Regions from separate parts of the Homo sapiens genome. Here regions 2, 3 and 4 are each reported to be linked to region 1. Evidence: microRNA targets listed by miRTarBase, many of them from high-throughput screens and not tested one by one. Region 1 holds a microRNA gene; each other region holds the end of a gene's coding sequence. Distances are from middle to middle.

What was found. Region 1 holds the annotated microRNA hsa-miR-582-5p (UUACAGUUGUUCAACCAGUUACU, at 3,318-3,340, opposite strand). A microRNA usually pairs through its seed, bases 2 to 8, with sites in the 3' UTR of a target mRNA and lowers its output. Matches are read on the target gene's strand: a 7mer-m8 pairs with bases 2 to 8, a 7mer-A1 pairs with bases 2 to 7 and ends in A, and an 8mer does both.
Region 2: miRTarBase lists ZNF350 as a target of hsa-miR-582-5p. Seed matches in the 3' UTR shown: 7mer-A1 at 5,845-5,851.
Region 3: miRTarBase lists DIXDC1 as a target of hsa-miR-582-5p. Seed matches in the 3' UTR shown: 8mer at 5,051-5,058.
Region 4: the mRNA of PGGT1B is a reported target of hsa-miR-582-5p. Seed matches in the 3' UTR shown: 7mer-m8 at 1,857-1,863, 7mer-m8 at 2,082-2,088, 7mer-m8 at 2,487-2,493 and 7mer-m8 at 3,319-3,325.

The regions. Positions count from the first base shown.
Region 1 is chr5:59,700,349-59,705,348 of GRCh38, forward strand. MIR582 (microRNA 582) reads right to left here and starts at 3,355; the gene lies at 3,258-3,355. All of the region lies in intron 1 of PDE4D (phosphodiesterase 4D), which reads right to left.
Region 2 is chr19:51,958,660-51,966,684 of GRCh38, forward strand. It overlaps ZNF350 (zinc finger protein 350), which reads right to left. Exons shown (of 5, transcript NM_021632.4): 5 at 5,681-7,555. The coding sequence ends at 6,195. The region is part of intron 1 of ZNF350-AS1 (ZNF350 antisense RNA 1); the gene reads left to right. Among named protein-coding and RNA genes, the nearest start is that of ZNF350-AS1, 14 kb to the left of the region's middle.
Region 3 is chr11:112,016,683-112,024,707 of GRCh38, reverse strand. DIXDC1 (DIX domain containing 1) reads right to left here. Exons shown (of 20, transcript NM_001037954.4): 18 at 7,912-8,017; 19 at 6,823-6,931; 20 at 2,055-5,752. The coding sequence ends at 5,672. Among named protein-coding and RNA genes, the nearest start is that of DLAT, 4.7 kb to the left of the region's middle. RefSeq lists enhancers at 149-338, 7,741-7,790, 7,811-7,860.
Region 4 is chr5:115,206,195-115,214,219 of GRCh38, reverse strand. PGGT1B (protein geranylgeranyltransferase type I subunit beta) reads left to right here. Exons shown (of 9, transcript NM_005023.4): 9 at 1,637-8,025. The coding sequence ends at 1,818. Among named protein-coding and RNA genes, the nearest start is that of TRIM36, 40 kb to the right of the region's middle. RefSeq lists a silencer at 4,852-4,961.

The sequences.
Region 1 (5,000 bases):
TCTATAAATCATGCCACAAAGGTTAAAAAATTAAATAACGACATAGGCCTTTTATTACAATCAAAATGGGTAAGAATGTGACTTTGCAGAGATTAAATAAAACAGCTATCTCTTCATGATTCACATTTATTGAATACCAAAAATAATATGGGAGAAAAAAATCACGTAGATTTCACACCTAATAAATGAACAAAGAAGGAGAATAAGTGTATAGATATCTTATATAAATGTATAGGCATATTTACTTATCTATTTACATGTATTTACATGCTAGATTTCCCCACCAATGCCATGGACAGAACCTCAATCCCCTTATTACTTCCAAAATTTACACTGCCTATCCCCAAACCTCACCTTCTTTGGTCTTATTTATCAATTACCAATATCAACTCAGTAAATGACTGGTCCCCTTCTCCAGTTGCATTCAGATCACATGCCAATCATATCCACTAAACATTTATGAAATTAGCATTCTCCTCTCAATCCCGTAGAATCACAAAGCTAGCTCAAGCCTATGTGATGTTTTGCCCAAGCCACAGCAGGAGCCACCTTTTACATTCCCAGCCTTCAATCTTGCCACTTACATATTTATTCTCCATTCAGCCCCTAGAATCTGATCTTGTCACATAATTGCTTGGAATGCTTCATGGTTTGAGGATGAACCCAAAGTCCTTAACCTGGCTCACAAGGTCCCCAGAACCTAAACCTTATTTATCTCCAGGCTCATGTCTTGTCACTGAACTACTAAATCATCCCTTCATCACAAATACCATGGGATTCCTTGCATCAGTGTCTCTGTTCCTGCTATTCCTCTCTCCCTGAAATGCTCTTCCTATTCCTCTCTCCACCCTACATTCATTCTTTAAGACTCAGTTTAGGTCACACTTTTCACCCCAGAAAAGGTTAGGTTCTGCTTTTTGCCACTCCCATAAAATCTTCTGCATAGTGCTAATCACGGCACTCACTACACATTTTCCCTGATAATCTACGTAAATATTTGCTTCCCCTGCTCCAATTTGAACTACTTTAATCTAAATTCCCTGAGAAAAGGTTATTATTTGTATTATTTATGTTAGTGTCTTCAGTATACCTAGAACATAGTACTGTAGATACCCATACAGGTTTTGTTAAATGAGTGAATGAGTGAGTGAGTGAATGAATGCTTTTCTCTAGAACAATTAATACTGAAAAGCAAATGTAAGCACAATGGAGAAAATGCCATTCCTTAGAATTCAAGAATGAGTGTGAGGGATAAGCCCAAGGAGTTTCACAATTATGGAAAGTCACACTCAGACAGTGAGAATAGAAGTGCTGGTTGTGGAAGGTGAAGACTCCAAGAGGAGCAACACAGAGGTGAGGAGATGGTACCAGCAAGACAAGAAGGCTGTGTGGTGCATAGTTGATGTGAATCTTCTTCACAACTTCTCAAAGCTTTAGTACAGTTCACACATGCTATGTGTTCTTGGATCCCTTGTGAAAAACAGCTCAATTCCTCTACAGCTTTGCATCCAGACCTGAGGCCCAGCAGAAGGTAAAAACATATAAGATGGACACAGAGTTCTGGAGGCAGAGAGTGGCATAAAGGTGTCAGGTGTGGCACTAACATAGAGGTCATGGCAAAAGTTAATCACATTTCCAAGGGCCAAGAAAGCACTGGTCAATAGAAATATGACAGAAAAGAATGAAGAGGGAAGCTAGGTGAAAGAGGTTTTCATACATCAACAGCAACATCACCTGGAAACAATTTTTGATTAGTTAGGCACTTACTAATTATTCCCTGCTTTTCTTTTTTTGAGATGAAGTCTCACTCTGTCGCCCAGGCTGGAGTGCAATGGCACAATCTGGGCTCACTGCAAGCTCCCCCTCCCAGGTTCACGTCATTCTCCTGCCTCAGCCTCTCAAGCAGCTGGGACTACAGGTGCCCACCACCACACCCGGCTAATTTTTTGTATTTTTTAGTAGAGACGGGGTTTCACACCATATTAGCCAGGATGGTCTCGATCTCCTGACCTTGTGATCTGCCTGCCTCGGCCTCCCAAAGTGCTGGGATTACAGGTGTGAGCCACTGCGCCTGGCCAATTATTCCCTACTTTTAAAATAAATTATAATCGTGCTGAGAGAATAAAAAAATTAAAGGAAAGAGTTCAGTGAGCCGTGATCATGCAACTGCACTCCAGCCTGCTCAACAGACAACAAACAAACAAAGTTATCATTCAAAATGTTTCCCATGGCCAGATGCAGTAGCTCCTACCTCTAATACCTGTAATGCCCGCACTTTGGGAGGCCAAGGCAGGAAGATGGCTTGAGTCCAGGAATTTGTGACCAGCCTGGGCAACATGGCGAAACCTCATCTCTACAAAAAATACAAAAATTAGCTGGGTGTTGTGGCACATGCCTGTAATTCCAGCTACTTGAGAGGCTGAGGTGGGAGGATCACCTGAGCCAGGAGAGGTCAAGGTTGCAGTGAGCCATGATGGTGCCACTGCACTCCAGCCTGGGCAACAGAGTGAGACCCTGTCTCAAAAAAAAAAAAAAAAAAAAAAATTAGACCAAAAAACAAAAACCCAAAAAGCCAAAATGCATCCAAGTATCATAAGTGAAAAAGTGAGCTTCTTAGCAGCCAATATGCAAAGGGAACATAATCTCTTACACAGTTTGGAATTACTCAGAAAACGTGGAACTGTCTTCAATCCTAAAGCGTCACATAGAAATGTTCCCTGAGTCTCACTGGGACAACACACTGAGCAATAGCTTTACCAGAATGTTTTGTGAATATGGTATGATATCAAGAGTAATAAAGTTATTTTGGAAAAAAATAACTTTAGAATAATCACTTAAAAGTCTGCTGTTTTTGACCATAATTGCACATGGATATATTGCCTTATATAAACTACAAAGAATTGTCTATTTCACATCACATTTTACAACTTACATTGCAAACCTCACTTCAGCCTTGAGGTACAACTATCAATAAAAGAAACAGGTCTTATTTTTAAAACTTTTTATTATTCATATCCTTGGTGACTTTCAGACAATAATTAACATGTGGTTAGTATCACCTTAATGGAGGAAGTACCTTATACTTCAAACAACCCTTACCAAAAGAACAGATAATACATATGTATTGATACAGCATTACAAATTGATGATAATTCAAAAAGGCACCATGTAGCTTGTACTTGAGAAGGAATTTTCCCTTTGCATATTGAAGGGGGTTCTGGTGGTGTTTTCTTTGTCCCCAGCCGACTTCACAATGAAATGTTTCTACTTTGCACCCTTTGGGTTCAGTTGTTCAACCAGTTACAATTAGTTAGATTAGTAACTGGTTGAACAACTGTAATCAAAGAGCACAGATTGACTTGTTGTGGTCTACTAGAGAGAGATTTGCTAGTGGTGTTCAGCAGGGCTCTGTCTGTCCTCTTCAATGTGTGCATGAATGACTTGAAGCAACATACATACATTCAAGAAAAATTCATTAAACATTGAATCATCATCTAATATTTGCCTGCTATTATGACAGGTCCTGAGGGAACCAAGAAAATGTCAGTTACATGGCTCTGATGCAAAGCTGGGAAGAAGGAGAAGGAGTCAGAGGTAGAGGCAGAGAGAGTAAAAGAAAGAGGGAGAAAGTGAGAAAGTGAGACAGAGAAAGAGAGGGAGGCCATGTTACACAACAGGAAATGTAACACATGACCTCCAGCTCGAAAAATTTGAATAAAAAGATATTTCAAGGAGTGCGAGGGAGGTAACCCTTACAATTATTAGAATGAACATTTACTCATTGTCAACACTATGGAGCACATATTTGGGAATTCACCTTTATTTATGCCACACAATATTATGTAGGTGACAAGCTAACCCGTCGTATTTAACAATATAAACAAAAACACAAATATCCTACTTTATTAAACTGAAAGCAGAGGACTCTCATCTCCCCAAAGCCCAGGCCATTCCCTGATATTAGTAAGGATACTAGGTGAAACTCCTTCTTTCAACATTTATTGTAATTAGTGAAAACATGCTTAATGGGACACCATCATCTACAATGATGACACCATATCTCAAATCACTAATCTTTCTGCCATGGACAGATTTCTGTATCAGGGGACACCTTTGTCATTTTGTCATCCAAATTTTGAGGATTCTTTTTCAATTCTCCAGCATTGACTGAGAATTTAAATGGTGCCAGCATTGTGCTGGAAACTGGATAAAAACTGAGATAACACACTTGAGTTCCTACTCTCAGAGAATCCACTTATTGGATTGCTTTGCTATAATTCCTGAATCCAGTGAGATTAACTGGTATTTTCTGTTGTTCAAAAAACTACTTTTCCCCTTTTTGTACAGATCAGCAATAAACATTTACATCGAGATTGTGTGGTGTCCATGAACAAGGCATTCAGTAGGGTCCAAGTCTAGACTTGAATGGCGTCTCTCACATTTTTGACTAAGAGACAATGTAGACATAAAAGTATCATAATCCAACTTACATACAAAATGGAAAAAATGGAACCAGAACACCTTAAAATGTTTCCTTTGAAATATGTGTGTGTTTCCATCAGGTTTATTTTAGTTCTCTAAAACTCTGTAATACTGAATACTCCAACTACCAATATTAGTCAAAGCTGTTTAAAACCAGCCTTCCCTTATTTACAAAAGGCAGATTTTACAAGACAACTATCAGGGATAAACACAAAAAGAAATGAAAACTGTTCCATGTCTAGCAATTCGCCAGAGTAAACTGGCTGTATATTGAACACAGCTGTTTCTGTGAGGGATTTTTCTTTTTTTGGAATTTAATATTGACTGTGCTCTTGTGGCAAGAATATAGTAAATGAAAGATTGTTCCAGGCCTGAGAAGAAGAGAGGCCAGAAACAATTGTTCCCCTAGGTCCTCCCCTTCCTTAATAACCAAACTGTTGTCTGGAGCCTCCTTGAGTTAAAAGCCTACCATTTTTCATGTCAATTACACACAAACAGGACTTTTCTTGTCACCTTCC
Region 2 (8,025 bases), not on the chromosome of region 1:
TCCTCTGGGCCCACTGTTCTTTCTCTATACTTTGTCTCTGTGTCTTATTTCTTTTCTCAGTCTCTCATCCTACCTGACGAGAAACACCCACAGGTGTGGAGGGGCTGGCCCCCTTCAGCTGTACACAAGCAAACACCAGATTCTCCATTCTCAGGTTCCATTACTCTATGCTGTACATTTGATTCTTATTCCGCCCCTTCTGAGGTATCTTGTGGTCTTATACGCTACCAGGAATTTGCAAGTACTTTCCCTTCTTGTGAAGTGTTTGGCACACAGGAAAACATGAGGGAATATTAGTTACTATACTTGTCCTTTCATGAATCATTTGAAATGTCACTTCTTCAGACAGCATTCTGGGATGCCTCTCAGTTTTGTCTTATTTATAATAATGCAATCATTAAATATAAAATTGCAACTCTTAAGTGGGGCTAAGGAAGGGAACTATAGAAGGCATTCAATAGGGAAATAGAGGAAGCATCTCTCTTCCGGGAATAATTGAAGATCATTTTTCCTGATCATCATCATCTGCTCACTTAACTGCTGTTCAGAATGGACTGTGAGTTCCACAAAGGCAGAAGTCTATAATTTATTTTTAGCCCCAGTGCTCAGAACAAAAACTGGAACACAGCACTTCAATAATAAGACTATTGAACAAATAACCATATTTGGCTGACAGGCTACAGTCTTTCCTTCTTCACTTACCCTCAAGGTGCTGTGCTGCTGCTCAGTGATAATTAAACATAGAAAAGATGCAGCTGGGCGCGGTGCCTCACACCTGTAGTCCCAGCACTTTGGGAGGCCGAGGCGGTGTATCACGAGGTCAGGAGATAGAGACCATCCTGGCCAACATGGTGAAACCCCATCTCTATGAAAAATACAAAATAGTTGGCTGTGGTGGCACGTGCCTGTAGTCCCAGCTACTCAGGAGTCTGAGGCAGGAGAATCACTTGAACCTGGGAGGCGGAGGTTGCAGTGAGCTGAGATCGCACCACTGCACTCCAGCCTGGCAACAGAGCAAGACTCCGTCACAAACAAAACATAGAAAAGATGCAAAAGAGTGTATGCTGTATGCCACCTTTTGAAAAAAGGACAAATAAATAATATATACTTGTATTATAAAAAGAAACACTGGACGGATTCACAGTAAACATGTTTACCTGTAAAAGCTAGAAGGTCAGGGGAAAACTAGGATTGAGAACAGGATAAGATATTCACAAATGTGCTTTTTTGTACAGCTTTAAGTTTTGAATCGCATGACTATGTGACCTAGTCAAACTATTTCAGAGTAAAAATAAACAGCCAGTAGAGTCTCTATCGCCCTAGGAGTGGAGGCTGATCACAGGGTAATCTAAGGATGAGATCATAAAATAAAACAAACCCTCCAAGCAAAAAAAAAAAAAAAAAGTTTTAGATGCCAGAAAACATTTGAATCTACAGCCTGCCACTTGGCAGCTAAGTAGCTTGAAAGCTGTTGGAGCAACACTCCTTAATTCAACCAAATACTGTCTCAGCATCTGCGAGGTGCCTGATCTAGTGCCCAATGTTGGAGGTGAAATGATGAGGAAAAAACAGACCTGCTCTCTTGAAGGGGGCCAGCCCTTCCACCCCTGTGGATATTTCTCATCAGGTGGGATGAGAGACTGAGAAAAGAAAGAAGACACAGAGACAAAGTATAGAGAAAGAACAGTGGGCCCAGGGGACCGGCGCTCAGCATACAGAGGACCCACACCAGCACTGGTCTCTGAGTTCCCTCAGTATTTATTGATCACTATCTCTACCATCTCGGTGAGGGGGATATGGCAGGACTATAGGGTGATGGTGGGGAGAGGGTCAGCAGGAAAACATGTGAGCAAAGGACTCTGTGTCATAAATAAGTTTAAGGAAAGGTGCTGTGTGTGCCTTGTTGTGCACATAGGCCAGATTTATGTTTGACTTTACACAAACATCTCAGTGCAGTAAAGATCAGTATTGCCCCCAGCATGTCTCACCTCCGGCCATAAGGCGGTTTTCTCCTATCTCAGTAAACAAAATTTACGATTGGGTTTTACACTGAGACATTCCATTCCCAAGGACGAGCAGGAGACAGATGGCTTCCTCTTATCTCAACTGCAAAGAGGCCTTCCTGTTTTACTAATCCTCCAGGGCCCAAACCCTTTATGGGTGTCGGGCTGGGGGAGGGTCAAGTCTTTCCCTTCCCAAGAGGCCATATCTCAGGCTGTCTCAGTGGGGAGAAACCTTGGACAATACCCAGGCTTTCTAGGGCAGAGGTCCCTGTGGCCTTCCGCAGTGCATTGTGTCCCTGGGTACTCGAGACTGGGGAATGGTGATGACTTTTACCAAGCATACTGCCTGCAAACACATTTTAACAAAGCACATCCTGCACAGCCCTAAATCCATTAAACCTTGAGTCAACACAGCACATGTTTCTGTGAGCACAAGGTTGGGGCTAGGGTTACAGATTAACAGCATCTCAAGGCAGAAGAATTTCTTAGTACAGAACAAAATGGAGTTCCTTATGTCTACTTTCTTCATAGACACAGTAACAGTCTGATCTCTCTTTCTTTTCCCCACACTCTCTGCCTTCAGGAAGTTTAGAATCCAGATGGGGAATGCACATGGAAATCTACAAAATGTTAAACTGCAGTTCCCCTAAGTGCTAGGAAGAAGAGGAACACGATCCTATGGAAGGCCAGACTGGTGAGGGAAAGTTGCTCTGAATTAGTGATGTTTGAAGATCCTGAAGGAGGAAAAATGCAGAAAATGGGGGGAAAGAAAAGTTCAGGCAGAAGAAAGAGCATGCACAGAGGCCTGAAGGTGATGAAAGGATGTCAGCAGCATATGAGGGGCCAAAAGAGGGCCAGTGTGTCAGAACAGGGAGAGCAAGGTGGAGTATGGGAGAGGGAAGAAAGAACCGGAACATGCAGACTTGATGGCCATTTTAAGGATGTTTGCCATTGTCCAGACCCCAAGCAGAACAGTCATTGCAAGTTTCAAAGTTTAAAGCTAGAGAGTTTCATAATCACAGCTCTATTAAGCTTAAAAAGTATGCTATATGAGGAATCCTTGGCTCAGTGCGTGGCAACCTTTTTGTCATCAAGTCACAGTTTTGATTAAGTTCAGGCACACCTATACTCTTGATTCCTCCTCTTCCCCTCACTGGGACTAATAACATTACTTGTATTAATTGTGTTTCTTGCTAGACACTGTTTTAAGGACTTTACATTTACTTCTCACAACAAACCTGAGGCAGATATTTTAAAGCTAAAGTCAAGACCTTGGTAAATTAGTTGCTCTATGGCACATGGCTTGGGCATGGCAGGGCAGGATTCAAACTAAGCAGTGTGACTTCAGGATACATTCCAAATCACTATGCAGGACTGCCTCTTGGCCCAGGAGGGACTGAGGTCATGGGAGCAGATGAAGGGTGATCTTCAGTGAAACTATAAGGATCTTGGGTTTGGGAGCAGACATGATGTGTACCAAGCTTAGGTATGCACTGAGCCTCCTTCATCTGGGAGGTCAAGCTCTGAAAGGTACGTTAAGCAATTGCTCAGGGTAGGCCTGGCCAACTCATCCTTAGACCCTGATAGAGCATAAGCAACCTGACCTTACCATGGAAGGATGTGCAGATTCACAAAGGCCAGATGTGGATAGGGCCTGGTTGGTGGAGCGCCCATTTCTGATTCTTTGCTGGAGAGTATCTGCTCTGAATCTATCCCATTATAATGTGGGGGTAATGATGGGGCACTAATCCAGGATTTAGGGCAAAGATGCACAAAATTAGGTGTGCACCAGAAAGCCCTCATTACAAATGCAGAGTGCCAGGTTCCAGCCCCAGAGGATCTGGTTTAGGAAGTCTAGGGGTGACTCAGGGATTTGCATCTTTTTAAATTTCTGAGAGACTTGCGGCAAGAAGCTCACAGACAATTACAAATACTCCTGGAGTATTCTGTGCTTACAAATGCTGTAACAGGCTCTCCTCAGTACACTTAGGTCTTGGCTCAAATTACATCCAGAAAAGCCTTCCCTTGGAGAAAAAAAATAACATATTTTTAAAAGCCCCCATCACTACGTATGCATTAGTATCCACTACTAGTCTTTTTCTCCTTCCTAACATCGTACAATCTGTTTCTCTGCCTCACTCAATGGTAAAGTTTATAAAGGTTATTCCTTTGCCTGTATTGTTCACCGATCCATCCTACTGTATCTAAAACAGTGCCTTGCACAGTGATGATATATAAAAGTTACTTAGTGGCCAGGCGCAGTGGCTCATGCCTGTAATCCCAGCATTTGGGAGGCCGAAGTGGGTGAATCACGAGGTCAGGAGTTTGAGACCAGCCTGGCAAACATGGTGAAAGTCCATCTCTACTACAAATACAAAAAATTAGCTGGGCGTGGTGGCAGGCACCTGTAATCCCAGCTACTCGGGAGGCTAAGGCAGGAGAATCGCTTGATCCCGGGAGGCAAAGTTTGCAGTGAGCTGAGTTCGTGCCACTGCATTCCATCCTGGGCGACAGAGCAAGGCTCCATCTCAAAAAAAAGGTTACCTAGTAACCCAGGATTTCTGTTGAATTCTGACCTAGCCACAAGGCAAATTTCCATTTATTTTCCTATGAGCAGCACTTACTGTAACTTGGACAGTGTATCCATATGGGATGAAGGTTAAAAAACCAGATAAAGAAGGCCAAGAGACCTACTCCCAGAAAAGTGAGAATGATGAAGATAAATCATGTCTCAAAAAAAAAAAAAAGAAAAGAAAAATCACATCTCAGTTCAGCAGGTCACAGAGAAGCTGGGATCTCTGAAATGGTAACCCTAGCGGGTGATAGGTCTTATGGACAAATAAAAGCGTCATCTCTAAGACGTCCCAAAAGAAACCCACCTCCTCCCATCTGTTACAGTCTCATCCATTCTCAGAGACTAAGATTTTCCTCCTCCTTTGTGTTCTACTTATTCTAAGAGTCCTTTTCCTTTTCTGCTCTGCCCCTTTTATATTTGGCTAAGTCTTTCTAATCACACAAAAGTTGTGAGTGACAATTCTATTCTTTACAACTGTCATTCCCTTCAATGACAAAATACGCTTCTCTTTCCAAATCATTCTCTCTCCAAATCAATACATAATTAGTTTTTGTTTTTCTATGTGTTGGGAAATATTAGATCATGCAAAGCAGCCTCTCCAGCATAACTTTCTGGGATGTTGGAAATAATGACAAAGAGTCCTCATTGTCTGAAAGTTCTGTTCACTCTGCTGTCCAGTTTAGTAGCCTCTACTCACATATACAGCTCTTGAGCAGTGAGGGAACTGAATTTTTAAATTTTGTGTTCAGTTTCTTTAATTCTAAAATTTAAGTAGCTACAAAACTTAGCAGGGAATTTGTAATCTCTTGGAGAGATAAGACACGGGCAAAAACAAACAAACAAAAAGCCCTCCTTTTTGTACTAAGGTGCTTAAGTACCATTAACAGCAGTCCTTCTGCTACTCCTTGAACAATAAATTATCGCGTCCCCTGGACACAGTTACTCCATGTCCATTTCACCTAATGTAGATATTTGCACCGCCTGACTAGATTGCCTGAGTGTAATGATACCACTTAAAATTAACCCCACAAACTCTCCAGGAGACCACAAACTTTTTCTTCTTTGACCTCAGCTCCTGGAACAGGACAAGGTACAAAGGAAATAATTTTAAAATATTTGTTTAATGAAACAAATTGACTAGTTTCACAGATCCCTCTGCATAATACAAAGTTCTGAAAGTTTATGGTCCTGGTTTTCAATTAATCCTCCACACTGGCACTGGTCTAAGGAAACTGAATTGACACATATGTGTCCCACATTCCACCATTACAGTATTAGCCCTTTCCCACCAACTGCCCCTTATGAAGCTTTTCAGTCACTGCAACACTCCCGACACCAATTATCTCATCTGTTTTAAAAATTCACAGTACTTCATTTCCTCCACTTAAAAGTACTTGGGCTTCCTTTACTCATTTAATTGACACAGTCGAGCAATTGCTGTGTATGTGCTTAGGTTAACATCAAATTTGCCTGTGTATCACAGCATACATTTTAATAGGATGAGTTTATCAGGCTATCTCAGCCTTATACATGTTCTCTCAGTGTATGCTTTTCGGCCACATAATGAACTACAAATTTTTGCTCAACCCTTTTCCACATAGATCTGAGTTTTCTTCCTATGGGTTTTCTGTAACATAAAATAAGACATAATTGATCACGGAAGGCACAACCACATTCACTGCATTCACAAGGTTTCTGTCCTGTGCAAATCCTCTGTTATCTCCTGAGGCTGCACATCTGACCACTGGCTGTCCCACAAGGACTACGTTCCTGTTTGCGAGGAGGCCGCTGATGTTTAATGATGTCTGAGGGGCCACAGAAGGCACTTGTGTAGTCGCCCCGTTAGCAGAGTTTTTCTCCTGCATGACATCACTGGTGTGTAATGAGCTGTGCCTCTCTGCAGGAGGATTTTCCACCTTGGCTGCCTCTTGTTTCTCCCTTGTGTGTATTCTCTTATGCTTAACCAGACACGACATATACGCAAACGCTTTCCCACACTCGTTACAGCCATAGGGTCTCTCTCCTGTATGAGTCCTTTGATGGACAATGAGCTTTTGCTTTGTGCTAAAGGCTTTCCCACATTCACTACATTCAAAGGGTTTCTCTCCTGTGTGAATTCTTTGATGTTTAATGAGACCTGATTTCTGAGAACAGGATTTTCCACATTCACTGCACACAAAGGGCGTCTTTCCTGTGTGAAATCTCTGATGTGCTATGAGACACGTCTTCTGAATGAAGCCTTTTCCACATTCATTGCATATATAAGGTTTCTCACCTGTATGAATTCGCTGGTGTACAATGAGATTTCCTTTCTGGATGAAGCCTTTTCCACATTCACTGCATATATAGGGTTTCTCTCCGGTATGTGTTTTCTGATGTATGTTGAGCCGTGATTTCTTGAGAAAGGCTTTGCCACATTCAGGGCATTCATAAGGTTTTTCTCCTGTATGAGTTCGCTGATGTTCAGTAAGCATGAACTTTCTGGAGAAGGCTTTCTCACATAGACTACATCTGTGGGGTTTCTCTCCTGTATGCATTACCTGGTGATCAGTTAGCCAAGACTTCTTGATGAAGGCTTTCCCACATTCACTGCACACATGATGCTTCTCTAATTTTCGTGTTTTCTGATGCTTGGGACTGATGAATTGGGACTTAGTGCTGATGAGTTTTTGACTTGCAGGGAATTTAATTGCAGTATGAAGTCGTTCATGGTTAGCATGAAGAAAGGAGTCCCCATTTCCAGTAAACTCAACAGAGTTCTTTATTTCATAGCCTTTGCTCTGGTTAACTAAAGTTAAATTGGATTTCAAACTTTTTCCACGTAAGTCAAATATATCATGATTTTGCCCTAACAGAAACTGACTTTTGCTGCAATGAACAATATTTTCAAATGCATCATGTTCATGACATGGTTTCCTTCTGTTCACCAGGCTTTCACTCTGCAAGCGCTCCAGCACATGATCAACTTTCCATATGTCTAGAAAGAAAAGAACAAAGATTTCTATCATTTAGATTTGGGGTAAAAGTTTGTTGTGGTTTTTTTGTTTTTTTTGTTTTTTTTTTTAAGATGGAGTTTTACTCCGTTGTCCAGGCTGGAGTGCAATGCTGCGATCTCAGCTCACTGCAACCTCTGCTTCCCGGGTTCAAGGGATTCTCCTGCCTCAGCCTCCCAAGTTGCTGGGATTACAGGTGCCTGCTACCATGCCCGGCTAATTTTTGTAGTTTTACTACAGACGGGGTCTCACCATGTTGGCCAGGCTGGTCTCGAACTCCTGACCTCAGGTGAGCCATTGTGCTCAGCCAAAGTATTTTTTGTTTTGTTTTGTTTTTGGGAGACGGAGTCTCACTCTGTCGCCCAGGCTGGAGTGCAGTGGTACAATCCCGGCTCACAGCCAAAGTATTTTTTGTTGTTTTTTTTTTGTTTTTTGGGGACGGAGTCTCACTCTG
Region 3 (8,025 bases), not on the chromosome of region 1:
TTAAGCATATTCCCTGTATGAAGATATAGGTTTACAAAACAGGTGTTGCTCCCTAATACCATAGAATTCTTTTAAGTAACCAAAAGCTTCGTTATGTTTCAAATGTTTGAAAAACTTAACTGTAAGCCGTTGAAGGCATGAAGAGTGTCTGCGTGGTCCTTCCATGTAGCCCCAGAGCTTAATATCCAGTAAATAGCGGGGGCTGAATGTATGTCTTTTGAATCAATGAATAAAAAGTCATCTACACATTTTGTTAGGCACGCTTCTCTTGTAAAGTTGTCTTTTAATTAGAAAACATATCGTTTCTGAACTGAAGGTGACATTAGATAAGGAGGAAGCATGTGCTGTGTATCACCACCTCCCCCCTGTAGAGATGGTTAGAGAACACCAAGAACGCAAGAGGAAGTTGGAGGGAAGAAACTTAAAACAAGATTTTAGCCAGGAGCGGTGGTGCATGCCTGTAGTCCCAGCAATGCTTGAGAGGCTGAGGTGGGGGAATCACTTGAGCCCAAGAGTTTGAGACCAGCCTGGGCAACATAATGAGACTCCCATCTGTTAAAAAAAAAAAAAAATGGGGGCTAATCTTGCTAACAATTAATTTGGAAAACTAAAACAGATTGGATGTACTATTTCATGCCTACTTAAATTGGAATGTTTAAGCAGGTACAGCTGTCTATCAGAATAATATGTAAGCAATATAATTGAGAAATATAAAATTTCTAGATTGAATGAAAAGGCATATTTTAAATAATATGAAGAGAGCAATTATATTGTTACAATTATGTACAACTTATGAATTAACAATTGGAAGAAGCAATGAAAGAATAATTGTAATTACTGAAAGGACTTATTACTATTATTTGGGGATGGAGTCTCACTCTGTCGCCCAGGCTGGAGTGCAGTGGCATGATCCCGGCTCACTGCAACCTCCACCTCCCAGGTTCAAGCGATTCTCCTGCCTCAGCCTCCCGAGTGCTGGGATTACAGGCACGTGCCACCATGCCCAGCTAATTTTGTGTTTTTAGTAGATACGGGGTTTCACCATGTTAGTCATGCTGGTCTCAAACTCCTGACTTCAGGTGATCCACCTGCCTCGGCCTCCCAAAGTGCTGAGATTACAGGCGCGAGCCACCATGCCCGCCCAGGACTTATAAATTATTATAAAAATGTTTTTGAGTTGGCTAAAATATCTTGCTGCTTTTGCTGCATTTGAACTTAATAACTGGATCTAAATTAGACTTTGGTATAAAGTATGAGGTGATCTTCCGGATCTGTTGTGCACTTAGGTATGCTTGCTTAAACCCTGTTTTGCATTTTTCAAAGAATAGCGAGTTTGTGTCTTGAATATACTTTTGACTTAAGTGTAGTTAAATTATAGGAATGCATAGCTCAAACAGTCCAGAGATGGCGAGCTTACCCCAGAGGTGGGCTAGGAATGCTTAGGTTTCTCAAATCAGTCCTGAGAGAACAAGCTTGAATTCCACTAAACAGACTGGATAAAGGAAATTATGGAAAAGGAGACTCAAGACTCAAAGGTTTGAAATAGAGATACTTAAGAGAATGGTGATATCACTGATATTGAGAGAAACAGAAATTAGTTGGTAGTGAAAGATTTTGAGTTATGTACATATTTAATTTTAACATAATGGGATAGCCAATTAATAGTTGAAAATACGTAATTGGAAGTCAAATGAAGGCACTCAGGGATAAAGAATTTAATATAGCAAACATTTAAGATGAATTGATAAGAGGCATTTAAGAGGCAGCTTTCAAATGATCTGGGAATTCTGGTCATTTTAAATACACATTTCTGAAAGAGTTCTTAATGCTTGCATACTGACTTTTGTCATAGAGTTTATACTCTTGGGTTCTTATTTGTTTGCATGTTTACATATAATTTCAAAATAAGTGCTAAATAAATTGTCCTTGATAATAGCCTATGTGCTTACATAGAAATACTAATTGTAAAATATCTGTAGCAATAAAGTAATTCTTATCTCCACTCCACATAGTGAGTAAACATGCTACCAGGGAGATCACTTGAGGAAATTTGCTTTCACTAAATGTAAATGGCTTTATTGATTAATCTCATCAGTAAACGCAAGTGAAAATCATTAATGATATTTAGTTTGCAAACCCCATTTTATTCATAGTTTGTGGTTTTTTAAATTAGTTCACAAATCTGGTACATACCGGCAGTTAAAACTGGTTATCACTTTGATAATCAGAAGCCTCTGGTGTAACATAGTCTTCATGAAAACATATTGTAAAACAGGGAGAATACACAGTAATAATCTCTTTGAAAGCAATGGCTGTAAACATCCATGTTTCTAAGAAAATATAACTTTACATATATATGTATTTTAAGCAAGCTATACCTCTTACATAAATTCAGACAGTAGAAGGAGTGTGCAATCATAATGCTTATTTTATGGAAACAGTGAAAATAATTTTAATTATGACCTAAATGCTTTTAAGTAATTAAAGTCCTCTTGAATTGGATGTATAGTATAAAGATATTTTCCCTAATTTGCAACCATCCTGGTCAAAAAGAGCTGAAAAGTTGGTCAGTAAGTAGAAGTGCCATTACCAAGTAAGTTTAAAACAAATTCTTCAAATTTAAAAATGTAAAAATTGTAAAGTATCCCAATCCCCCCAGCTAATTTAGGGAACTGAGCAAGAAGAGAACATTCTTCAGTTTTTAAATGACTTTTTTTTTTTTTTTTTTGGAGATGGGGTCCTGCTCTGTAGCCTAGGCTAGAGTGCAGTGGCATGATCAGCTCACTGCAACCTCAAACTCCTGGGCTCAAGCAATCTTCCCACCTCAACCTCCTGAGTAGCTGGGACTACAGGTGTGTGCCACCATCCCCAGCTACTTTTATAATAAAATTTCTATGTAGAGACGGAGTCTTCCTACGTTGCCCAGGCTGGTCTTGAACTCCTGGGCTCAAGCAGTCTTCCTGCCTCGGCCTCCCAAAGTGCTGGAATTACAGGCATGAGCCACCACACTCAGCCTTAAATGAAGATTTTGTAAGGAATTGAGCATTCAACTAAACTCGTTTTTGTGAGATGGTCATTTTGTTTTAACCTAACATGGTTTAGAGATTATTTTATGAACTCTAAGCATTCTGGTTCCTCAGTTTTCTCAAAGAAAGAGAACTTTAGCAAGTAGCAGGACAAGCTACCCCACACCAATGCCACCAGGCGACAATACTATGAATAAGTCAGGAGGCCTCCTAGAATGCAGCCAAATAGGAAACTGTTCCAAACAGAATCAGTCTTGCATACTTCTGCTCAGAAGGCTCCTCTCGCTTTGGAAACTGGAATGAGGATCACCAACAGGATCCTCATTTTACACAGGAGTTATGAGAGTTACATCCTCTAGCAGAGATGCTTGGTCATTACCTGTGGTACATGAGATTACCGAGCTAAAAGGGAAAAAAAACGATCTTAATGTTCTCCCATGAACTCAACTTAAGCTTTTTATGGAGGCACTGAGGCCATGCAGCTCCTTTTCCAAAAGACACAGATAAAAGCCAAATAAGGTAGAGGACTTTGGAAATTTTCTCTGAAAAGTTAAATTCCACATAATAGTAAGACTGTTTGCTGAGAGAAAACTGACAAGTAAAAACTGGTTTAAGAGACAGACATTCAAGACAAACTGTATTGGAAATACAATAATGAATTTTGGCCTGATAGCCCTCATGCTGTCTTATAGCAAAACACTAAAATTCATGCAACAGAGAAATTGGTGACATGAGGACTTTTTCTCCAGACTTCCTGGGGAAAAACTGTGAGAATATACTTTTTTCTTCTGTTTGCTTTCGAAATGCATTCTTTCTTTTGCTGACTTTCCCAAACTTTCCCAGTCGTTTCTGATGAAAAATTCTTCAATAGGAAAAGACCAGGTAAACTTACATGAAAGACATCAAGTATCTTTTGAGCTCCTTCTCTCTGCCAGAGGAGCAATCAACTGGATTACACAAAACTACCTTCACAACTAAAACAGGTAGAATTGGAACAGGAATTAGTTGTCATTAATATACTCGTAATAAAATAAAGCTTGTTCTGAAACCACAAGGGGTGGTAAGAAGAGACTGTATAAAAGCTACTGGGTTCTCTAGAAAATGGATACAGTATACAGAATGTGAGAAGATACAGAACTCACACTCCAGTTATAAAAATAGACATGGTTCTCAGACAAAAAGCAAATGAGTACAAAAGAATTCTCCAAACGTGAACTATTTTTAAAAGATACATCTATATAAAACAACAAGATGTCATCTCAGAGCTCCAAAGAGTAGTTTGTTGAAATGGCTGAAAAGGGGAGATGAATTGGAGACAGATAGGTCAAGAACCCAGAACAGATGTGTCCTACTCTTGTGTTTGGCAGTGTACATTGGAGGTCACAGGCAGATAGACTGCTTTTGGTAATACATATATAAATAATAATGGCTGACTGGTTGATGGTGCTTGATGGATGAATGAGAAAACCCAGGTTATCAAATAATCTCGGTAGTTGAACTGTTAGCTTCTTCACTTGACAATGTTGCACATCAGAAATGATTCTAGGTTTTTTTTACCCAGAATGATCCCTGCCATTCACAACTCATGCTCCACGCCCCATGGTTTCTATTGTGCCCTAAAAGATCAGCCTAGACTAATACATAAATAGAAAATAACTCTGGCCTTGAAATGAGGGGCAGACAAGTACTTCATGCTCAGTACTTATAAATCACAAAGAAATGCTGAAATTAATGGTCTGTCTCCTTTTACTACAAAGGAGATGCCATGAGTTAAAGTCATGAAACAAAGAAAGTCAAAAAGATATGGGTAGCAGCACCTTTCCATACCCGCCTGGATTTTCAAGGAGCTTTTCACTCCTTATGCCTTTCAAACAAAAGTTCATCAGTTTGAAGAAAAAGAAATGGCTCTAAAGTTAAAGAGTCCCCAGAGAAAACTAACAGTACATGAAATAGGCCCTATGTGGGCAAAAGGACAAGCTGCAGAACCAGTTAAGACAGAAGAGGCAGCCCAAGGTCTTACTAAATTACAGTTTTAGCATAGTGTAGCACAACATGGGCAGCCCTTTTTCCATCCAAGCAACAATTCAGCACCATCCACGTCTGGTTCAAAAGATTACTGAAGTCTGGGCTTTCATCTTTGGTACCACCTCATGAGTTATTCTTGGTTTGCAGTAGGTTCAAAGAAACAGAAAAGCTGGTACCTTTGCCTTGTCTGTGAGTACAAACGCTGGGACTCTGATTGCTGCAACCATTGAGGCCAATTAAAATAATACTGTAACACACAGGAATGATGCATCCAATTCCTAATTTCCAGATAATAGCAGCCATGCCCCTACAGAGGCGGGATCATCCATCCCCATCGTTTAAGGCCTTCGGTTTGTTGTCCTCAGAGTAGAATAGAACACTGTGTTCCCACGGACAAGGAACTCCAGATGAACCCATGGTCTACATTTGGACAGAATTTTAAGTACCAGATATGCCAGGCACAGAAAGAGGACTGACCTGTGGCCATCATGCTTGGAGAAGCTTCTGTTTTGGCACACAAACTAGAAACTTCTTAGTGTATTCTGGTTTTAGTTCCCTTTCCTGAGTGAAGCAGCCAGGGAGTGACCAGGTTCCATAAGCCCTCAATCTGATACTTGGCATTAATTCTCTCCATGGTCTTCTTCCACCCAAGCTACAATTTTCCCTTCCCATCCAGGGATGGCATCATCATCATGGAAAATCTAGAGAAAAAAACAAAAAGCCACAGTGAAAAAACAGGGAATCTGATTCACTAAACAATTGCTGCTAATAAAAATAAGACCTCAACCATGTAGAAGAAAGCCTTGAGTTAAGAGTCTATGTCCTTTTGGTCTTGTCCCTAGAACTGCAACTGATATTTTATTTTTTTCTTAGATCCACATCTATGAAATGGTTTTAAAAAATGCCTGATACTACTTTGCTCATAGAGATTTGTAAGAATTAATAAATTACCAATCACAAAGTACTTTGGGCTTCTTAGAGGAAAGATGTAGTGTTAAGTATTTTAAAAATGAGAAAGTGGAAAATTTAGTTACCAGGCAATGTAAAGAAAGGGTGGGGAAAAAAGACTCATTTTAACACATTTCTCAGATGCAGTTATTTTCATTAATTCATTCAACTCATTTCCTAAGCCACTAATAAAACAGGGTTACTAAAACATTTCACTGAGGAAATGTTTACAAAATAAAATTTTACTTTCTCTATAATAACTTTTTTCATTCTGTAACTGCAGTGAATCCACTTGTAATACTATATAACCCAGAACTGTATTCCCCCAAAAGTCTATCTTTGACAAATGGATTATAAAGAGACGCGTAGGCTAAGAAAATACTTACTCAAGGAGTTGGGCATAAGCATACATAACTCCCTAGAAGTTCCTTGATTTCATTATGAGAAATACACAGTTCCATATATCCATGCGTGTTTATTTTGCTCTACATAGGAAGCAAGAAGTTTTCTAAGATTTGGCTGCAGATGGAAAATTATTTATTGTCTTAGGTTCTTTATTTTCCCTAACAAAATAATTTAAAATAAAAATTATATCCAAGTTCTCAGTCAAATGATGAAGTCCTACAACTAAAGAACCTATCAGCATCTTGGACTATTCTATGACCACTTGTCTAGAGTAATCAGACCATGGTCTGAGGCTCTGGCAAATTCTTCTGACCTAGTCAGGGAACTCATGTACTTCTGGACACTAGTGCTTGAACAGGAGGCTTCAGGGTTCAGAAAGGACCAATAATACCATACAGACTCCCCACAGATTCTTTACCTCCTCTTTGACAGTGCCAAACTCAGGATCCAGTGCTTTGAAGTGATACCGGTGATTTCCTTCCCGATCAATAGCTGCTTTAAAATCCTTTAACGTCACCTCCTCCAACCTGCAACACAAGGAGAGAGCACTAAAATAGACTGTTGATCAATAGCTGGAAAGATAAGATGTTAACTTTAAACACAGCCCCCTGCCAAAGTCAATAAGCAGAAATAGCCCCTTGTTAGGTCACTGCCCCGATAACCCAGATGACTAAAACAGCAGAGGCTGGAGAACCAGTCATCACTAGGGAATGAAAACAGTATTAAATATGGGGTGATGTGAGAATTTAAAATTGACTTATTGCTTCAGAAGCCAAATCACTTTTCTCTGGAAATAAGATATAAAGTCCCTGAAATAAAATTTGTTGAATAACCATAAATATATCAAAGTTCTCTTGATTTTCTTCTTTGCTACAATATCCCAATTCTCTAGGATGGTAGAATCAAATCAAGTATCATGATCTTTATCCCTCTATCTTTAGGAAGCTGGCTTCTAACCCAGACTAAATAAGCAGACTAAGTAAGAAAAATCCTATAACCTCTCTCAATAGTTGGTTGCAGAGTTTAAATATTTCTATTTCAAAACCATTTCCCTTAAAAGGAAGCACATTAACTTTCTGGAAGGTTTTTGACATAATTTCTCAATAGGGATTAGCTGCAGTCATTGAATAGTAACAAAGATCAATTAGTCATAGTCCTGGAGTGAGTGCCAGGCTGCAATCCATTGTATCAGCAGGAGCTATTTTGAACACTTAAAAAAAAAAAAAAAGATTTTCCCAAATGCAGAGCCATATTTGCATAGTTATCAGGATTGGAAGTACTATTATTGTACCTGTATCTAGTAGTAGATCATGACTTGTCCTTTATAATACCACTGAATAGTGGCAAAGCTGAAACTAGAATCTGTCTCTCTGGCTTATCTCACTATAGTGAGATCTCACTATACTGCTTCTCAAACACCTTTCAGCTGCTCATGTGGGCAGTAACTAATGAGGTTCTGCCTTCCTTTCCTTCTTTACAGTGAAATACAATGATCCCAGAATCTCACCTCTTTGGTATATTGACCATGAAGGGCGTAAGTGACCGGTCAGTGAAATAGAGCACTTTAGTACAGGTGCTGCTGACAGTTGGAGAGCTCTGTGAGTGAGGCAACTCTACAATC
Region 4 (8,025 bases), 56 Mb from region 1:
ATTTGTTACTTTACCCAGAGAGATTTTAGTTTTACACAGTTCTATTTTATGTTATTATAGATATATATTTTCTGTTGTACTTTTTCCTAGAAAAGTTTCCTAGTTTCTAGAAAACAAAGCTTAATGTTGCTTTGTACCCTTTGTAGTTTTAGAATAACTATATGGATGTAATATGACAGGTGAAATCAAGTTTATTTTTTATAGTCTGAAAGTCAAAGGAAAGTGAGCCAGAAGAAACCTAAGTATTTTCTGAAAAGGCCTAAAAGGTGATCAACATGGGCCTCCATTAGTTAAATAACATTTTCACAATGGCATTGAGTAAGCACAGCTATTTGTCATTTCTGTTTTGAAAAATAAGTGATACTGTTGTAAGTAAAGCTTTTTCTTTAACTCTTTTGACAAAGTTTGATGTGGTAAGATGTGTTGAACTTTTTGTTGTTGTTGTTTTGAGACAGGGTTTCATTATTTTGCCCAGGCTAGAGTGCAGTGATATAATCATGCCTCACTGCAGCCTCAACCTCCCTAGGCTCAGGTGAGCCTCCCACCTCAGCCTCCCGAGTAGCCGGAACTACAGGCGCACGCCACCATACCTGGTAATTTTTGTATTTTTTGTAGAGATGGAGCTTCACCGTATTGCCCAGGCTGGTATCGAACTCCTGTGGCTCAAGGAATATGCCCTTCTCGGCCTCCCAAAGTGCTGGGATTACAGGTGTGAGCCACCACACCCAGCCTGTTTTGAACTTTAATAGCTCTTAAGGCCATAAATGTCGGCCAATTCAAAAATAGAAAAAAATTTTGACTGGTACAAAACTGTCTTTTTAATGTTCCTATAACTGCAAAGCTCTGAGCTCTTCAGAAGTCTACATAAGACTCCTAGGCAGGAATGGCCATGTGATTTCATTGGCCACTTTAATAGAAGAGGATCGCTGCCCCCTGAAAGATGGGAAACTAGTGAGCCAGTGCAGAATTGTCATGGTATGAGCACTCATATTATTTCAACCAAATAGAATGTGAGTTTGTTTTTATTGTCAGATCAGATATTTTTACAATGACTGACATTACCCTAAATAGGAGGATTAAATATGGCACAGCATTCCAGAATGGATTATTTTTGCATAAGCTCCTTTTATTTAACACAATGTTAGGATAGTACTGCATATGGTTTAGGAACTTTCAGAGGTAAAACGTGGAGCGAGGGATATTGCAACTTAGATTCAGAGTTTTGTTTTCGTTTTAAAGAAAAAAAAACTTAATGATATAGCATTGAAGCTACTCGTTTTCATGTTCTCTAGTAAGCAAGAGGGGAAACTCCCCAAAGTGAGAAGTCTTACATATGACTGCTGCTACTCCTGTCTTTTAATCACAGAGGTTATGGACAGTATCAGCTCTTCAGCTGGAAACTGTTTTCCTTTGTTAATGATATTTTCATGAATAAAATATTTTATTTTGATCATCTGAGTTTTTTTTTTAATTGGTGTTTGAGGCTTTGAGAAAGCAAATATTTTTAAAACTATATTAGCATTTCTCTAAACTTACTTTTAATGGAGTGATGGGCTGGTAAATATGTGGCTAAAATATTCTGTAGAATGTACAAGTAAGAATGCCTATTATGATGTTTTAAATGCCTTCTTTTCAGATGCTTTGCATGCATACTTTGGGATCTGTGGCCTGTCACTAATGGAGGAAAGTGGAATTTGTAAAGTTCATCCTGCTCTGAATGTAAGCACACGGACTTCTGAACGCCTTCTAGATCTCCATCAAAGCTGGAAAACCAAGGACTCTAAACAATGCTCAGAGAATGTACATATCTCCACATGACTGATTTTAGATTGGGAGGGTGGGGGGATTTGTAGCATAACTGTAGCTCAAGTTTAAAAGCCATGTATAACCAAGTGTGCTCTTTTTTTAAAAGGTAGAGTCTTACAATCAAATCTCCTGCTGATTTCACTTTGGGATATGGTCTTGAGCCAGTAATCTTTATACTGGGTTTCAAGAAAATCTTTGTTGAAGTTTGAACCACAACTTTGTCGTGGTTCTTAAATGTTTATACTGTATTTCTAAGAAGTTGTTTGAGGCAAATTAACTGTATGTGTGTAGGTTATCTTTTTAAAAACTCTTCAGTGCAAATTGTATCTTATTATAAAATGGACACAAATTTTCAAGTTTACACTTCATATAGCATTGATAATCTTCAGGTGAACACTTAGTGATCATTTAAAAAGCTCACTGCTGATCGTAGAAAATTTGCTTTAATTAATTAAGTATCTGGGATTATTCTTTGAAAACAGATGACCATAATTTTTTTTAAAGAAGAGTGACTTATTTTGTCTTATTCTTAAGTAAAGTGTGCCAATTAAACCTGTGTGGCCTATATAAATGAAGTTAATAACTTCATAGTAAGAATAAATAGGTTTAACTAATGTGATAGTTTTCTAAAAGGAGATTGTTTGAAGACAACTATTATGTAACTGAGGGAAAAGCAACTTAACTGTATGTGATTGTGAATGAGAAAGTTTTGTGCTATGTGGGTCATTTATCTAGACATTGCTGTGGTGAATACCAGTTATGTTTGATTTTATTCTCAAATCATTAGTTGCCTTTTTTTTTTTTTTTTTTTTTTTGCTTTCTAGGAAGAAAACAATCTTTTTTATCTAGAAGGAAAGATACTTTGTGTTTTCATTTTTAGCCATTTGAAGTTTTTAATTTATTGCCCCCAGTGTGTTAGCTGCTCTAATTTCAAACTAATACTTTTCTAATTTTTTTCAAATTAAATAAGTAAAAAATACAAAAACAGAACCATTCAAACAGATTCAGTGGTGTAACTCAATACATGGTCATTTTTATTCTCATATTTTCAGGTAAGTGAAAGGGAAATGCGACCATTTAGAGGGTAAGAAATAGGGTTTTGTTTTTGTTCATTGTTTTGTTTTAAGTCTATGAACTAGCTAATTATAAAGGAGGTAGTATAAAAACTCTTCATTAGTAATTAATTTATCAATAACTCATATCCGTTACTTGCTCAGTGACATTCAGAACTATTGCGTCTAGTACTGAAATGGGGAAAGAAATCTCTTCACTAAAGGAGTTGGCTTTAAGTTAGTCTTGGTGATAATAAATGTTGAAATACAAGTATCAGTATAAAAACTGGATTACTGGTATCACTGTTTAGGCATTGTAATACTTTAAATGTTATCTTTTTTTCTAAATCAGAGGGAAAAAAATGTTGTGAAATAACAGTCCTTCCCAAGGGAAACACTGTGTACTTGGAGAAATGATTGATTTATTATTGGCATGCTTAGTTTTAAACCTGAGTTTGCCAACTGTATGTTTTTTAATTAGAAATAAAATAAATCTTCTGATGGTGGGGGAAAAAGTAAGCTTAATAACAGATGTTATCCGTCTATGGGTTATTCCAGTTGCTACTATTTAAATCCTGGCAGATTAAGACATCCATATCTCAAACTAAGTCATCTCTTAGACATTGGAAGTTAAAGTAGCATATATATAATGGCTTTAGGACTATATAAAAAGCCCAAATTGTTTTTTCTGTATCACCAAGAAAGGTTAGAAGGCAATAAAGGTAGTAACAGTGATTTTATTCATAAATGTTAGAGAAAAATTCCAATCTAAAAGTATTTCATAAGGCTAAATATTTTCTAACTCCTGATAATTTAATACCATAAGATTATAAATTTTAGTATGCTTCTAATTGATACACTTGTGGGAGACTTTCTTGTGAAACTTTATGGACTAGTAAATGTTCACATTCCACAGCAACTGAATTGACCAGAAAATAGCAGCCCAGTGTGAATTGTGGAGAAACTATTTCTAACTTTTCTAAATAGTTATTTACAAGAAAAGCATTTATCGATTAAATAAATTATAAGCAATATTTCACATATACACTTTATTCCTTAACAGGAGCGATGTAATGAGGGAAAATACGAAGTCCGAAATCTCAAAAAGCTCTGTTACCTACTCTATACTTGTCTCCTTCCCGCCCCCTAATTTTGTGGCATTTTTTTTTTAGAAGGTAGGAGGAGGAGCTTTATTTTGAGCATCTGTGTACAAATGAGATTAATCAGATCATATGGCCTAATTTAACCTGTTTATCATTTCAGTGTTTTTAGATTTGATCTATAATATATATGTGTTATTAGATCTTTAGTTATTTATATTTAATCTAAATTCATATAGAAATCTTGCTGACAGTGGTATATAATTTGAAAACTGTTGGACCTGATCATTTTTGAGAGACAGTTAATGAGGAGGTGCTCTGGAATCAGATGACCTGGGTTTAAATCCCAGATTTGCCAGTTCAGCAGCATGATCTTGGACCCTAACTCTGCCGTGGATAAAATAAGGGTAAAACCTAACACACAGGGTTTAGGATTAAATGAGATAATACAGATAAAGCACTTAGGATAGTACCTGGAATACAGCAAATTTCAAATTATAGGTTCTTTATAATGATCATAAAATTATTTTTGTAATTAAAACCTCTCTTCTACAACAGAAAGAGGTCTTAACAGTTTAACCTCAGGGAAAATGATGACAACAGTGTTGTTTTCTAATCTCCCCATAAGAATACAGAGCAACTAGGATAGCCACAGACACTATTACAACGCTAGATGACAAGGTATCTCTATGAACTTCAAAATACAACTAAGTGAGGACAAACCACTGAACCACATAGTTTCAGTATCTGTGGGAGGAAGTAGAAGGAAGGCAGCTGGTTTCTGACAGCTCTGCAAATTGGAGAACTACAACACTGCCCACAGTTTCTCAACTACAAAGTGCAGCGGGCCAATCTAAGAACAGACACTGAAACTGGGAAGTGACTACAGAATCTCATTTGCAGATGAATGTTAAAGCAATATGATAAGGTCTGCTGATTGCATTAGAGCTGTCTGGGTTTTACGCTGTGTACCTCTTGAAGCTTATGAGACAAAGCCCAGCACTGAGGACAAACTTCTAGAATTAGAATCCAAATGGGCAGGATGGGTAAAATAGGACAAAGGAAAGAAGATCTAGATAAGTATTGGGAAGAAAGGCCAAGACACAGAGACATTATATATGTGTATTTTCATATATATATATATTCTTTTAAATCACTGTGAAAATGGGAGCTCTAAGGCTGTGAAGTCATCCTAGAGCCACTCCTTCCTCCTAAAAGTACAGAAAAACTCATTTCAGTTAAGGGGAAAAAAAGAGTAAGTGAGCCAGGATTACAGTCCAACTCCAGTCAAAGTTAGTATAAGAAATAAGAGAATAAATAGATCAACATCCTCACAGACAATGAAAGCACACCGGAAGGACATGACCACAAGACAGATAAAAACCTAATATTTGCCAAAAAATAAAATGCAAATATGACAGGAAATTTATATTAATTAGTACAGTTATCAATAAAAGTAGGAAAAGGGGAAAATTAACCAAGTACCAAACACTTGGAGTAAAAAGCAAAATAAAGCAGAAGGAAGGAATTAATAAAAGCAAAAAAGAATTACTAGTAGAAAACCAAAACAATAGAGGCAATAATAAATCCAAGTTGGTGATGGGTAGTGCGGGGAGTTGAGTCAGATAAACTACCAGCTAACCTATTTAAGAAAAAAAGGAGGAAGCACAAATACAAAAATTTAAATGACAAGGGGGAAATAGTAAAACAGGAAATTTGTTTAAATTGACTATTTTGAGCAATTTTACACAATAAATTCAAAAACTATTTTGAGAAAAATGCAAATTGCCAAAATTTACTCTAGGTAGATAAAGTCACAACAAACCAATTACCGTAGAAGAAACAAATAGTTAAAAGTACCCCTTACCAAAAGAAGCATCAAGCCCAGATTGTTTCAAGGGGATTTCTACCAAACCTTTTAAGATTAAATAATCCCATTCTTGCTTAAACAATTGCAGAGACTAGGAAAAGAATCTTGAACCTCAAAGTGCCAAAAAAAGAAAAAAAACAAATAAAGAAAAACTCCTGAATTCATTTTATAAAATGAATGTAATAGCATTGATTCAAAAACCTGACAAAGATGGTACCAAAAAGAAAATATAGAGCAATCTCATGAATATTAATAAAAAGTTTTAATGATAACATTAGCAAACAATCCAACAGCACTTTCAAAAGGTAATCATGACTAAGTTGGGTTTATTGTAAGAATGCAAGGGTAGTTCAATACTAGATAATCTGTTACTATTCATATTAAGAGTTAAAAAATATCTTCATCTTTGCAGAAAAGACATGATAGAATTGAGCACTCACTTATGTTAACTATACTAAGTAGAAATTGATGAATAATCTATTAACATTGTACCTCTACCTAAAAGCCAGCATCTTAAATTTCAAAGCAAAGGAGACTTTCCAGCTGAAGTCAGGAACAAGACATGCCCACTAACTCCTCTGCTACTTAACAATGTGTTGAGAGTTATAGCCAATGAAGTTAGACAAAATAAAGACGTGAATTGGAAAGGAAGAGGTAAAACTATTTGCAGATATGAATATGTATCTAGAAAGCCCAAAGGAACTTGTTGAAAAACTAAACAATAAAAGAACTTAGTAAAGTAGCTATTAAATACAATTTACATAAAAATATCAGTAGGCTTCACCAGACACAAGTGCATACTTTGATTCCATTTCGGTGAAGTTCAAAACAGACAGCATCTATGTATGGTGTCAGAAATCAGCACCCTCTTTCAGTCACTACCTCTCTTCCCAAAGGTAAGTGCTGTCAAAATTACCATCAATTAGTTTTGTCTGTTTTTGAATTTTATATGAGTGGAACCATATAGTATACATTATTTTTCAACTGGCTTTAACTCAGTAGGACTGAAAGAGGGTACAAGGGAGACTCTGCGGTGCTGGTAATGTTCTGTTTCATGATCTAGGTGCTGGTTACGTAGGTGCATTCACCTTATGAATATTTATCAAGCTGTATATGATTTGTGCACTTTTCTGTATGTATAATTATAGCTCAGTAAAAATGTTTACTAAAAAGAGTAACAAGACTATATATATATATATATATATATATATGTATGTATATGCAAACCTAAACTAGTTAGAAGATACTTGAAGAGAAGACCACCTTTGTGATAGCAAAAGTAAAAAGAAAACTTAATGTGTAAATTTAAGACACATCTAAAATCTGTATGAGGAAAACTAAAAAAACTCTTGAGAGGCAAAAATGTAGATTCCACCAAATGGAAAGATACATGATATTCTTAGATAGACAACATCAAAACATGTCTTTCCCCACTTAGGTTCATTTATAAATTCAGTGCCATTCCAATAAAAATTATATTGTTATTTGAGAGAACATACTAGAATAACCATGGAAACTGAAAAGAATTAGAGGGGACCAGCCATATCCGACACTAAAACATACTCTAAATCCTCCATGGCAGAAGCTATCAGAATTTTTTAAAGTGTGCACACTTTTTGGCCCAGATACTCTCTATCTATAGATTTAGCATAAAGAAACATGCAAATAGGCAATGATACATTTTCAAGGATCTCACAGCCACATTTTTGTAATTGTGAAAAATAAGACACATTATGATACATTTATGTAACTCAATACTATGCAACTGTTAAAGTATGGATATTGGAAGGCATTCGTAATGTTGAATAAATGAAAAGTTTTGTATTGGCACATAAATAGGAAGTCCAATGGAACAGAAGAGGAATTCCAGAAATAGACTCAGTGGCATTTAGAATACAGTAAAGGCAGCATCTCAAGTTAGTGAGAAAATGAACTTTTAAGTAAGTGCTATTGAGATTACTGGTGCTTAATTATTCAGATATTTACAATTTTAAAAAATATATAGCTTATTTCACTTTGAACCTTTTTTTAAAATGGTCATTTAGTTTTATAATTTAAAGAAAAATGATAGTTCTCTCCCCATCCCAGCCTATACTATACCCACAGCCTATACTTCCTGGAGGTAAACACCACTGTTGCATACATCTTTCAGACCTTTAATCTCTGTATATAGAGATATAGAAATAGAGAATATTCT